4 separate regions of the Homo sapiens genome follow, and regions 1, 2 and 4 are each reported to be linked to region 3. Evidence: microRNA targets listed by miRTarBase, many of them from high-throughput screens and not tested one by one. Region 3 holds a microRNA gene; each other region holds the end of a gene's coding sequence.

Region 1 (3,000 bases), not on the chromosome of region 3:
GTAGGCTCTACCTCCTGAGCTCAAGCAATCCTCCCACCTCAGACTCCTGAGTAGCTGGGAATACAGGCACGCACCACCATGCCTGGCTGATTTTTTTTTTTTTTTTTTTCTAGAGACAGGGTTTCACCATGTTGGCTAGGCTAGTCTTTAACTCCAAAGTTCAAGCAATCTGTCTACCTGGTCCTCCCAAAGTGCTGGGGTAACAGGCATGAGCCACTGCAACTGGCAGGATGAGCTAATGATTGTTTTGATTTTCTAAATGAAGCATGTGATGAGATCCTCATCTTGGGCAAGCGGGAAGGAGAGGCAGGAAAGGAAGGGAGGAGTGAGAGACAGAATTTGAGTGTGGGGTTATGAACTTACTAGAAAAATACAGTAACACTGCTGGGCTCATCTGATTTGTGGTCATGAATTTATAATCAAGTCTGTCCAATCGTGATTTTTTTCTATTCTACCGGCTCTTCTGATGTAGGAAGAGAAAAGGCAAAGAGATATTTGAATTCAACCAGGAATGTAATTTAGGCAAGTGAGAACAATAGGCAACAGAGCAATGTTGTTCAAAGTTTTACCGGAGAATGATTATTATGGTCCAGAAAGTCAGAGTAAGGATGGACGTGAATACAGAAAGGGTACTGTTTTTCAGATTTTGAAATATCTGCAGTACACTTAACAGCTGAGCATCCCCAATTCAAAAATCTGAAGACTGAAATGCCCTAGTGAGCATTTCCTTTGCGTGTCATGTTTGTGCTCAAAAAGTTTCAGATTTTGGAGCATTTTGGATTTTCAGATAGTCAACTTTTACTTATAATTTATTAAAGAAATAAAGCTAGTTTAAATTTTTTCTGAGGAACCTGTAACTTTCAGAAAATTACTACAATGTACACTGTTGAAACTTAACATATCATTACTTTATTGTGACTCAAGATTATTTTCATCTGTATTAAATTAAGTATTTGCAAAATGCAACATAGGAATACTTAATAACACTGTAATAACTCTATCATCTCCCCATAATTTATGCAAAAATTTTAAGTTTTTCCCCCATCGTCACCTAAGACATTTCTAATCTTTTATAATTAGTTGACTCACTTTCATATAGTACCAATTAATATTAGCCTAATGAAACTAAGTCAAATATGGCCAAAAATAATCATCATGCATTTACAAAACAATATTATTTGCCAGTCAGAGTCAACTTTTATTGAGCACCTCCTATATTCCAGAACCAAAAACATGTTTGTTCCTTACAAAATTCTCAAAGCCACTCTTTAAGGTAAGTAATAGTACGTTCTACTTAACAGATGAAAAAACTAAGAATCAGACTGATACAACTTCCTCAACATCATAGGCAGAAACATAATTATACTGACTGCCAATTTTAAGAAAACATCTATTTGTTACATTTGTGTCATTACTACAAAATCTTTGCTTTTACAGTTTTCTTAAAATCATGTGAATATAAACAGTATTTTTATTTACATTACCATTACTTCTCTTTTCTAAGAGAAATTCTTTGTCTCCCTAAGATCATGACCACTTATGTATAATTTCTTGCTTATAAATTTTAATAAAATATACGTAAGTGGGAATGTACAGTATTAAGTATTACTCTATTATTCTGGAATTTAACAATGAATAAGCACATATTTTAAAGGCCACACCTACTAAGAAACAGATACAAACTGTAATTTCTAAAATATATTTAAAATTAACCTCATTAAAATTTTTGGTTTATAAGTTTAACTGTATAAATACAGAAAGTTTAGCTTAGATGACTATGTATTTGATGGTTAGCCACATATAAGTTACCGAAATACATATTCTTTCAAGTTTGAAGTACCTCTCCTAAGAACTGGGCTAATGGGTGGTTCCTTAGTTTAGTTCAACTGGAATAAAATTATAAAAGTTCTATCTTGGCCAGGCGCGGTGGCTCACGCCTGTAATCCCAGCACTTTGGGAGGCCAAGGTAGGTGGATCACCTGGGGTCAGGAGTTCGAGGCCAGCCCGGCCAACATGGTGAAACCCCGTTTCTACTAAAAATACAAAAATAAGCTGGATGTGGTGGTGTGTGCCTATAATCCCAGCTACTCGGGAAGCTGAGGCAGAAGAATCACTTGAACCCGGGAGGCAGAGGCTGCAGTGAGCCAAGATCAGGCCACTGCACTCCAGCCTGGGTTACAGAGTGAGACTCCATCTCAAAAAAAAAAAAAAAAAAAAAAAAAAAAAAGTTTATCTTCCTTTCTATTACAGATAATATAACTGTAATATGTAACTATAGCCAAAAGGTCAAAGACCACAGAATTCAATAAATACTGAAAATAATACATGGTTAATATCATCAAATTCTAGCCAACTTCTAGTATTACGTATATATTATCTTACAGAAAATGTGTTCTAATAGAATTATCTTAATAAAAAGGGAAGGGACTATAAATAACCAATTACAAATCCAGTAAGTGCTTATTTTACAAATTAGGGACTGAGGCACAATCATAAGTAACTTGCCCAAGTCATATGCCAGTGGTAGAACCAGGACTGATTCCTGAACCTGACTTCTAGTCTGTGCTCTTTGAACACTTCTTTGTTTTCTCATGTTATAACTGAATCCTTCTATGTGCTAAATTTTAATTTGGAAAATTATCAAGTAATAAAACTGCTTTTCTCTCCAGCCCAACTCTCTGGTTTTTCTTAAATAAGTATTACAAGAATAGGATACAGTTCATAACTTTACAACACTCTCATAGGTTCATTAAGATGAGAACTTTATACAGGAAACAGTTCACTTTACATGTAGTTTGGTTTGGCTGGAAAAAGCTTATTTAACAGCCATAGTTTTAAAACCTAGTTATTCTATATCATAGTGACTTCATATGTTGTAAAATGGTTTTCTATAATCTTGACGTTTTCTTCAGATAGCCAGTTTTCCTGCTTTAGCTGCCTTATAAGAGCTTCCAAAGACTTCAATCTACCTAGAGTTTGTTGCTCTTTTAACTCTAGAAG
Region 2 (3,175 bases), not on the chromosome of region 3:
AAGTGGGAAAAAGGCGGGGAAACCAGCTTGGCGCAGCCGGACGTGCATCCTTCCGAGCTGCCACTTCGGAGAAGCCTTTCGTGCACCTCACCTGAAAGACGGTCCCACTCGAGGTGGGCTAGGGGTTTCAGGGGGAGACTTTCCATGCAGAGGTGCCTTTTGGGTGCCGTGGGTCAGGTAGGAGCTGTCCTTTCAGCACCCGTTGCGCAGCCGCCTCCCCAAATGCTATCGAAGCCCCCACCCCCAACTCCTCTCGGGTGGCTCCCTTAAGGTCCCTGTATTCCCAAACCTCCAGACCCCGCCACAGTATGGTGGAGAGCGGCCGTCGAGGTCTACCAGCACTCACTTCCCCCTACACTCTACCCCTCTCGGAGACATTTTGCCCAGCTGCCCAACCCGACGCGGCCACCAAGCCTGGGCACTGCAGCCGCAGCTGGCGAAATCCCTCCTTCCACACTGTCAAGCTGGCTGCCTTTCACTTGCGCGAGGAAAGGAGGGTGGAGGAAAGCGCCCGGGGATTAGGAAACAAGTAGAGGAACAGGTGGTGTGATGGCAAAAGGGCTCTTCCGGTGCCCCCTAGTCCAAAGCCAGGGTCTTGGAGCTAGCCAAGTGCACCTGAGGGAGGGTAGGCAATTGCAGCAGCAAAAGAAGGTGTTCTTCCGTTGCAGTTAGCAAACAAGTTTTACATCTAAGAATCTTTAAAAATTCTATTTGAGACCCAGCACACAAGAATACGATAGATGTCCTCAAATGGGGGCTTGGCTCACAGGTGGAAGGACACTAAATTGGTCCCATCTGATTTCTTGAGGCAAGGGTTGAACCTGGCTTGCACAAATCACACCTGTCCAAAGCAACCACGAGTTCTACTATTTTGCAGCCCTTGCTGCTGGGCGACGACGACGACCTCTCTGCCTCTTCTTTCCACCACTACATCGCCTCCTGGGGCAGCTTCTCCCTACTCCACCCTGTGTACCTTTCCCAGAATACAGAACCTCAGGCCAAAGAGAGATGCCAGCCCCATTAATCACCTCTACTGTACCCCAATCATATTACGGAAAGTCAGACCCAGGAGACAGGACTCAACAGCCACGCTCATAGGGCAGATTCCGTTTGCTGCCTCCAGCCCCTCATTCCCGCCTTAATTGTAGGGCTCTGCATTATAGCCGCATAATTCATGCCTCCCTAATTATGGCTGTCAACAGCCCCATTGTAAAGCTGTAAAATGTACAGCACCTGCTCTCCAGGAACCCTGTGCCAGGGATTGGTAGAGGGGAGTGCCAGGTGTGGATGGGGGCTTTGCCAAAGGGTTCACTGATTGGCTTCTCAATCGCCGTGTCTGGCATTTATGCTTGATTCTGGGAGCATGGACAATAGCCAAGAAGTCTCTTGCCGCCAGGTATCCCGGGACAGAAAGGGGAAGAGGCGGGTGGGGTATAGGAAAGTTAGGGGTTTCCTGTGTGCTCTTGCTACAACTTGCAAGATTTCACCTCTCCCCTAGAGGGAGCTGCTAGGGAAACAGCTTGCAGAAAGTAAAATGGGAAGTCTGGCATGGTGGCTCATGCCTGTAATCCCAGCACTTTGGGAGGGTGAGGCCGGCGGATCACCTGAGGTCAGGAGTTCGAGACCAGCCAGGACAGGGTGAGATGCTGTCTCCAAAAAAAAAAAAAAAAAGAAGAAGGAAAATGGACTTTAAAGAGAGTAGCATTTGGTTGGTGTTGCTGGCTGGTACTTGCCGGTGTGGGGCACCTGAAATAGAGTTGCTCAGGCAGACAGCTCTTCAAAGGCACTAATCCTCTCAGCAGCTCTGCAGCAAGTCCTGGCAGAGGGAGGTAAGGGAAAGGACACAGCTTTGACCCTCACAAGCAGAGGACCTAGAACAAGCTTTGCCATGCCAAGAATAAATCATCTAGGGCCTACTTAGGGAGCCAGGTCAAAAAGCTGAGAGAAACCTCGAAGAGTGGAGTGGGAATCAGAGTTTGAGATGGTGAGGGCAGGGAGCAGAGTCAGTTGGAAGAAGTGTTTGGTTCTGCTCAGTCCTGTTGTGTTACAGGGGAGGCCTGTGCTGGATTCAGTTCACCAGGGCCTACAGGCCCTTCTGTTACCCTGAACCATGGAGGGGGCCAGTCTCATTTGGGAGTGGAGCCTGGCCCCATGCCCTGCAAGAGGAGGAGAAAAGCTTGTGTGGGCTGAGTCGACAATAGGTAATTGGATTGTAATCGCCCGCCTGGCTTCCGCGCACCATTGGGGGTGCTGAGTCTTTCAGTGAGCAATCAGTACTGTGTGGTGGGAGAGGGTAGAGATTCAATAGCAAATCCCAGGTGGAGAGCCAAGGGGGAGGAGCAGCAGATGGGCAAATTTTCTGTCTCTCCCACCCCTTTTTTCCTTACCCAAATAACTGCCTGCCTATTAGTTATTTACTAGCAGATCCAAGGTAGAGCCAAATCTTTTGTGGAAGCTGGGTGGAAGGCTAAAATGGAAGGGTAAAGAGCTAGGGTTTTGGGGAGAACTCTTCCCTGAAATTCTGTGTGTTGAAGGATGTGCTGGTGGAAAAAGAAAGTGCATCTAAGAGACAGGCAGCTGATGAGTTGTGGCCCTTTGCTCTCCAAACCCTATTGGTGACCAGACCTAGGTTTAGTGTACTCGTGGGAGACTTTCACCCTCAATCCTCCTCAGGAGCCTGTCCCAGGCAGCCCAAAGGTATCTATGGCCAGCAAACCTGGCCTGGGGGGCTCCCCAGCCAAGCAAAGGGAACACCATTCATTATCAGGAAAGGAGGTGCCTTTCACCAAGAAAAGGAAGGGGAGTGGAGCCCTGGAGGCAGAGGGCAGGGCAAAGTGGCAGGTGGCCAGCCTCATTCAGGCTGATGCAGTGCCCAGACGGGCCAGCCAGTCAGCTCGCTTGAGTTCCAAGGCCTGCAGGAAGCCTTGGACTCGCTCTTCCCGTCTGGCCGAGAGTTTGTGCAAGCGTGTCCTTCGGAGCTGGGCGTCCCCACTGGCTTGGAGCCCCTCTCGCAGCAGCTGCTCTGTCACTGTAGCCTGGTCCCTCTCCAGCTGCTGCCTCTTCCGCTCCTCTGCATACATGTCTCGGGCCTTCTGCTAGAGAAAAGTGGGGATTGGGGTGGGGAGATCATTTTTAGGAGTGGGTGAAACTGGGATGGAGGAGGTAGGGGGTGGGG
Region 3 (3,000 bases):
TCAGGCTCACCATGGTTCCGAGGAGTTCCGCACACAAGTGAATCCCCTCACAGCTCGTGCTCGGGACCAGCGGACTGAAGGAAGCCGGAAGTGACGCCACACGCCCTACTTCGGGGGGCGGGGCCCCGGCCTGTCGTTACCGCCAGCAGGCGTCCCATTTTGATTGGAGCCCCACGGGCCGGAAACGCAGCCTTTCACACTGGAGGGGGCGTGGCCGCCGCTCCAGAACAAAGAGGCGGCTGCCGCGCGGGTTGCCATAGAAATGGAGTTCTTGCTCACACTTTTTATTTTCTTAAATTTAATCTTTAAACACTTCTATTAAAGTCACACATGTACACAGTTTAAAGTGTTATATACCAATAAGGAAAAACATAATTTATCTGCCTCACCACTTCCTGTCTCCAGGAAAACTGCTTTCAACTTTTTCAGTTTTTTGGAGGGGCTATTTACTATCATATTCCCAGATAATATTATTGCTATGTTAATTTTAAACATTATTTACTGAGTATTACAGAAGAAGACTTCCTTTTCTCTTACTGAATTTTCAGACGTTATTTCTAACTGGACGTTGACTGCCCAGGATAAGGTCTTGTGAACTGAGAGAGACATTTATAGTATTTTATCTTTGCCCTATTTACTCATTTTCAGGAATTTTTGCATTTCGGTCTTTTTTTTTTTTTTCCTCCAATAGTAGAGACGACTTATTAGTCTTTGTTTATAATAAACTGAAATATTTGGGACTGATCTTGATGTCTGCCAAAACCTTGGCAGACATCAAGATCAGTCCCAAATATTTCAGTTTATTATAGACAGTTTTCTACTTTCTCTAAGTTGACGGATGTCTAAAAATTTGTTCTCTAAAAAATTTTTCTGTCATCTACTGATACCCTCTTTTCTCCCTTTGACTAACTGATCGCTTAAGCTCCTCGGCAGGGCGCGGTGGCTCACCCCTGTAATCCCAGCACTTTGGGAGGCCGAGGTGGGCGGATCACCTGAGGTCAGGAGTTGGAGACCAGCCTGGCCAACATGGTGAAACCCTGTCTCTACTGAAAATACAAAAATTAGCCGGGCGTGGTGTGCATGCCCGTAATCCCAGCTACTCAGGAGGCTGAGGCAGGATAATTGCTTGAACCCGGGAGGCAGAGGTTTCAGTGAGCCGAGATCACGCCGCTGCACTCCAGCCTGGGCAACAGAGCGAGACTCTGTCTCAAAACAAAAACAAAACAAAACAAGCTCCTGGATTTTTCTTTTTCTGTTTTGTTTTTTTTAGAGATGGGGTCTTCTATGTTGCCCAGGCTGGCCTGGAACTCCTGGGCTCAAGCAATCTTCCTGCCTTGGTCTCCTGAGTAGCTGGGGTCTCCTGGATTTTTGACATTGCTAACATTAACAGGAATTTTCAATTTTTTAGTTGTTTCTACCCTTCAGATTTCCTCTAAGTGGGTTGATTTCCACCAGGGGTTGGCAAGCTGTGAGGAGTCAAACCCAGCCTGCCAGTTGTTTTTTGTATGGCCTGAGAGCTAAGAATAGTTTTTACATTTTTAAGTGGTTGAAAGAAATCAAAAATTTCCTGACACATGAAAATCCTGTGAAATTAATATTTCAGTGTCCATAAAGCTTCATTGGAATCCATGGGCATACCCATACATATTTACTCTGTCACAATACGATAGCAGAGTTATGTGGCAGAGTTGAGTAGTCATGACAGGTTGAATGGGCCCACAAAACCTAAAACATGTATTATCTAATTCTTTACAGAAAAAGTTTGCTGACCCTGGTTTACAGTATTCCTCAGGTCCAACATGAAAAGGGGAGTTCAGGCTGGACAAATTGTTATTTTAAATCTCCCAAGAGTTTTCTCTTCTTTGTAGGAAAATTTGGTCTTCTTTCAGGAAATGTACTTTCCTAGGCAGATCCCAAATCGCATTCTGGAATGAGAAGATTCACAATAAAAAACTAAGATGCCTGCACAATATTGAAAAAGGTTGTTTTTATTGTGGGCAAAATTACATACCTGGAGATATTTATTATGTCCTCTGGTAGGCAAGCCTGAGACTGTGTGTGATGGGGAAACCAATGACTGCTCCCTGCTGGGCTTTGAATGTAGCCAGAGGCATTTGGATGGGGAGAAGGAGGCAGGCCCTGCCACCTTGTGGAACTGAGGCTAGAGGCAGCCAGGAAGAGACTCTATGATGGGACCCTTGGAAATGTGTCCTTTCTCCATTGCATCTTTTGACCCTTCCTTCTTTCCTACTTCCCCCTCCTTTGATGACACCTCTACACCTAGAGGCTAAACACTCAGCTTCTAGACCCAGACTATATGAGTTTGAATTTCAACCATTTTACGTACTAGCTTTGTAGTCTTGGGTGGGTTTCACAGGCTCTTTAAATCAGTTCATTGAAGGCCATTCAGAGCGTGATCAATGTGCTGGTTTACCAAAAACTGTCTCTTTTAGCTGTTTATACTTTTTTGTTGTTGTTGTTGTTGTTGAAACAGAGTTTCACTCTGTCGCTCGGGCTGGAGTGCAGTGGTATGATCTCAACTCACTGCAACCTCCGCCTCCCGGGTTCAAGCAATTCTCCTGCCTCAGCCTCCCAAATAGCTGGGACTACAGGCATGCACCACCACAGCTGGCTAATTTTTGTATTTTTAGTAGAGACAGGGTTTAACCATGTTGGCCAGGGTGGTCTCGAACTTCTGACCTCAAGCAATCTGCCCACCTCAGTCTCCCAAAGTGCTGGGATTACAGGCATGAGCCACCACACCTATATATATATTTTTTAATTGAGACAGGGTCTTACTCTGTCACCCAGGCAGGAGTGCAGTGGTGTGATCTCCACTCACTGCAACCTCTGCCTCCTGACTTCAAGCGATCCTCCGACCTGTCTCCCGAGTAGCTGGAAATACAGGCATGCGCCACCACACCAGCTAATTTTTTGTATTTTTGGTGGAGACGGGATTTTGCCATGTTTCTCAGGCTGGTCTTGAACTCCTGAATTCAT
Region 4 (3,175 bases), not on the chromosome of region 3:
CTTTTTAATAGCCTGGTTAAAAGAAGCTTCACACCATTCTCTTTGAACATAAAGAAGGATGGTATGGGTAAACCTAAGCTTACAATGAAACCTGTAGATTATAGTTCTGTAATAAGCTGTTTATTACAGACAAGGCCTCTCTACTCTTTTGTAAAACAGTTCTTCACACCTTTGTCATGGGAAGGCACAGATCATAGATCAGATCCACAGTGCCTTTCACATGCTCCTTTCTTATCTCCTTGGCCTTTTCCATTCTGGACCACACCTATCCAGAAATAATTTTCGATTTCTTCCACATCTCTGTACCTCTTATGAGTAAGGGTCAATAATGTGGTAGTTGAAGACATGAAGGTGAGGGTTATGTAAATACTTGAACTGTTCCTCCTTCAAGAGCCTAAAAGAAGGAATTAAAATGGTTTCTTTTCATTTTGTTATAGGAGAAAACGCAGGACAAACACCCATGAACATCAATCCCCAACAGACCCGTTTCCCTGATTTCCTTGACTGTCTTCCAGGAACAAACGTTGACTTAGGAACTTTGGAATCTGAAGACCTGATCCCCCTCTTCAATGATGTAGAGTCTGCTCTGAACAAAAGTGAGCCCTTTCTAACCTGGCTGTAATCACTACCATTGTAACTTGGATGTAGCCATGACCTTACATTTCCTGGGCCTCTTGGAAAAAGTGATGGAGCAGAGCAAGTCTGCAGGTGCACCACTTCCCGCCTCCATGACTCGTGCTCCCTCCTTTTTATGTTGCCAGTTTAATCATTGCCTGGTTTTGATTGAGAGTAACTTAAGTTAAACATAAATAAATATTCTATTTTCATTTTCTGCAAGCCTGCGTTCTTGTGACAGATTATACAGAATTGTGTCTGCAGGATTGATTATGCAGAATACTTTTCTCTTTCTTCTCTGCTGCCCCATGGCTAAGCTTTATGGGTGTTAATTGAAATTTATACACCAATTGATTTTAAACCATAAAAAGCTGACCACAGGCAGTTACTTCTGAGGGCATCTTGGTCCAGGAAATGTGCACAAAATTCGACCTGATTTACAGTTTCAAAAACTGTATTGATGACAGTAGTACCAAATGCTTTAAAAACTATTTAACTTGAGCTTTAAAAATCATTGTATGGATAGTAAAATTCTACTGTATGGAATACAATGTAATTTTGAATCCATGCTGGCTCTGATGGCTCTTATTAGTCTGTATTTATAAAGGCACACAGTCCTATTGTAGCTTATCTTTCGTTATTTTACTGCAGAGCATCTAGACAACTTAGTCCCTCCAGCGGGAAAGTAGCAGCAGCAGCATTAGTCACAGGTCTTACACTACAGATCTTGTGAAAGAGACCAGTTTGGTACTAATTATGAGCATTTTATTCAAACAAAAGTTTTTGAAATATTACAACTGGGGATTTAAAAAATTGCAGCTTAGAATCTGATGGTTTTTTTTTTTCTTGATGTTGTTTGTTTGTTTTTGAGATCGAGTTTTGCTCTTGTTGTCCAGGCTGGAATGCAATGGCACAATCTCGGCTCACTGCAACCTCTGCCTTCTGGGTTCAAGCGATTCTCCTGCCTTAGCCTCCCGAGTAGCTGGGATTACAGGCACCTGCCACCACGTCCGGCTAATTTTTTGTATTTTGAGTAGAGACGGGGTTTCACCATAATGGTCAGGCTGTTCTCAAACTCCTGATCTCAGGTGATCCACCCATCTCGGCCTCCCAAAGTGCTGGGATTACTGGCGTGAGCCACCGCACCCGGCCTTGATGTTTATTTTATAAAGCACTGTAATTTTGTAGCTGATGACAAAAGGCAGCCAAATGTTTTTGATAAATCAGTGGCAACTGTATTTTTGTCTTTTGAAATAACTCTGAAAACATCAGGACAACATAGATTTCAACCTGATAGCACACCACACACAGTGAGCTGTTGCTTTTTAAATTCTGAAGCCTTGTCAGGTTTGCTTCCTAGATTTCAAGTGTTTAAAATAATTCTATCTATGAAACTGAAGGATGAAGCAGATCTCTGACTGACATGTAAAAAAAAATGCCCTTTGAGGGTGTATGGTGGAGATAAATGTTTCTGAATTCAGTAAAATTGATTCCTAAGTATATTATCCTAATCCTGTTTGCTACAGTTGGTATAAAAAGGCATGAAATATGTATTCAATACCTCTTATGTAACCAAAACCATTTTTAATTAGCTTTTAAGGACTGAGAGAGCATCATGTTCAACTGGCATGCAGTCTGCCTGCATTGCCAATGAAGTCCTCAACTGTTTAATATTTTGAACTAATATTATTTATAATCTATGAATTTAATCTTTTTTGAAAGACTTTAATAATTTGAGTCTCTGAGAGGATACTTTCAATTTCCATGGGGGACTTATTTGTTGGGGATCTTAAATAAGATTCCTTTTGATCTACCGGAATATACATGTACAGAGTACATTGGATCATGTTGGAAAGAAGGCAAGTGAAAAGGTCAGAGATGAAGTAGCAAAGTTATGGAATATCGTGGAAAGGATACTAGTTGTGAAATGGAAAGAGACAAGTTATAGTACCCCAAAAGCAAAACAAGCAGGAGATGCAAGAGATGCCCCAAAAGGACAAAGCAACAATTTTCTGTTGCCACCTTTATACCGGAAGACTCTGTTGTAGAAGAAAAGAAGGCTTTGGTGCACCTTATGTGGGAGGAGGAGGGGCAGGGCATGCTGATGCTGAGCGTACAGGCAGACAAGAGCGTAGCCTGCTGTTGCCTCCATCACTATGAAATGACTTATTTTACCTGAAGGACCCATGGTTTATGTTCCTCTAATTCCTTTCACTCTCCCTAAGCCCTCTGAGAGAGATGAAGATAGATGATTTTATTGCTACTAAATTGAAGGGAGCACTATTTCTTTTTGTCTTTTGTTAGCAAAAAATTGCAAAAAGAATTGTACATTCTTGCTAAAAATAAATAAATAAATAAAAAATTAAAAAAACAAGGGACCTAACAAAACTCAGCAGTGTTACTGTATTTTTAAAAAATATTTTTATAGACTCATTTTCAGGTTATTAAATGTAAGAGAAACAGATACCCCTCTTTTTTAAAGTAGGTAAATCATTGATGATTTATATTACCAATTTTTAGAAGTAATTTTCTAGTAAGCTTGTGGCATCAGAAAATACTA

Evidence for each region. Region 3 holds the annotated microRNA hsa-miR-3913-5p (UUUGGGACUGAUCUUGAUGUCU, at 770-791, opposite strand). A microRNA usually pairs through its seed, bases 2 to 8, with sites in the 3' UTR of a target mRNA and lowers its output. Matches are read on the target gene's strand: a 7mer-m8 pairs with bases 2 to 8, a 7mer-A1 pairs with bases 2 to 7 and ends in A, and an 8mer does both.
Region 1: the mRNA of THAP5 is a reported target of hsa-miR-3913-5p. Seed matches in the 3' UTR shown: 7mer-A1 at 1,953-1,959.
Region 2: the mRNA of DHDDS is a reported target of hsa-miR-3913-5p. Seed matches in the 3' UTR shown: 7mer-A1 at 2,130-2,136 and 7mer-A1 at 1,578-1,584.
Region 4: the mRNA of WWTR1 is a reported target of hsa-miR-3913-5p. Seed matches in the 3' UTR shown: 7mer-A1 at 1,724-1,730.

What each region holds. Positions count from the first base shown.
Region 1 is chr7:108,561,341-108,564,340 of GRCh38, forward strand. THAP5 (THAP domain containing 5) reads right to left here. Exons shown (of 3, transcript NM_001130475.3): 3 at 792-3,000. The coding sequence ends at 2,851. Among named protein-coding and RNA genes, the nearest start is that of THAP5, 6.9 kb to the right of the region's middle.
Region 2 is chr1:26,468,812-26,471,986 of GRCh38, reverse strand. It overlaps DHDDS (dehydrodolichyl diphosphate synthase subunit), which reads right to left. Exons shown (of 9, transcript NM_205861.3): 9 at 681-3,092. The coding sequence ends at 2,856. Among named protein-coding and RNA genes, the nearest start is that of HMGN2, 2.0 kb to the left of the region's middle. RefSeq lists a silencer at 1-152 and enhancers at 1-231, 232-940.
Region 3 is chr12:69,582,535-69,585,534 of GRCh38, reverse strand. It overlaps MIR3913-2 (microRNA 3913-2), which reads right to left and starts at 812; the gene lies at 713-812. CCT2 (chaperonin containing TCP1 subunit 2) reads right to left here and starts at 76. Exons shown (of 16, transcript NM_006431.3): 1 at 11-76. The coding sequence starts at 13. MIR3913-1 (microRNA 3913-1) reads left to right here and starts at 712; the gene lies at 712-813. RefSeq lists an enhancer at 1-45.
Region 4 is chr3:149,518,252-149,521,426 of GRCh38, reverse strand. WWTR1 (WW domain containing transcription regulator 1) reads left to right here. Exons shown (of 7, transcript NM_015472.6): 7 at 438-3,175. The coding sequence ends at 622. Among named protein-coding and RNA genes, the nearest start is that of TM4SF4, 45 kb to the right of the region's middle.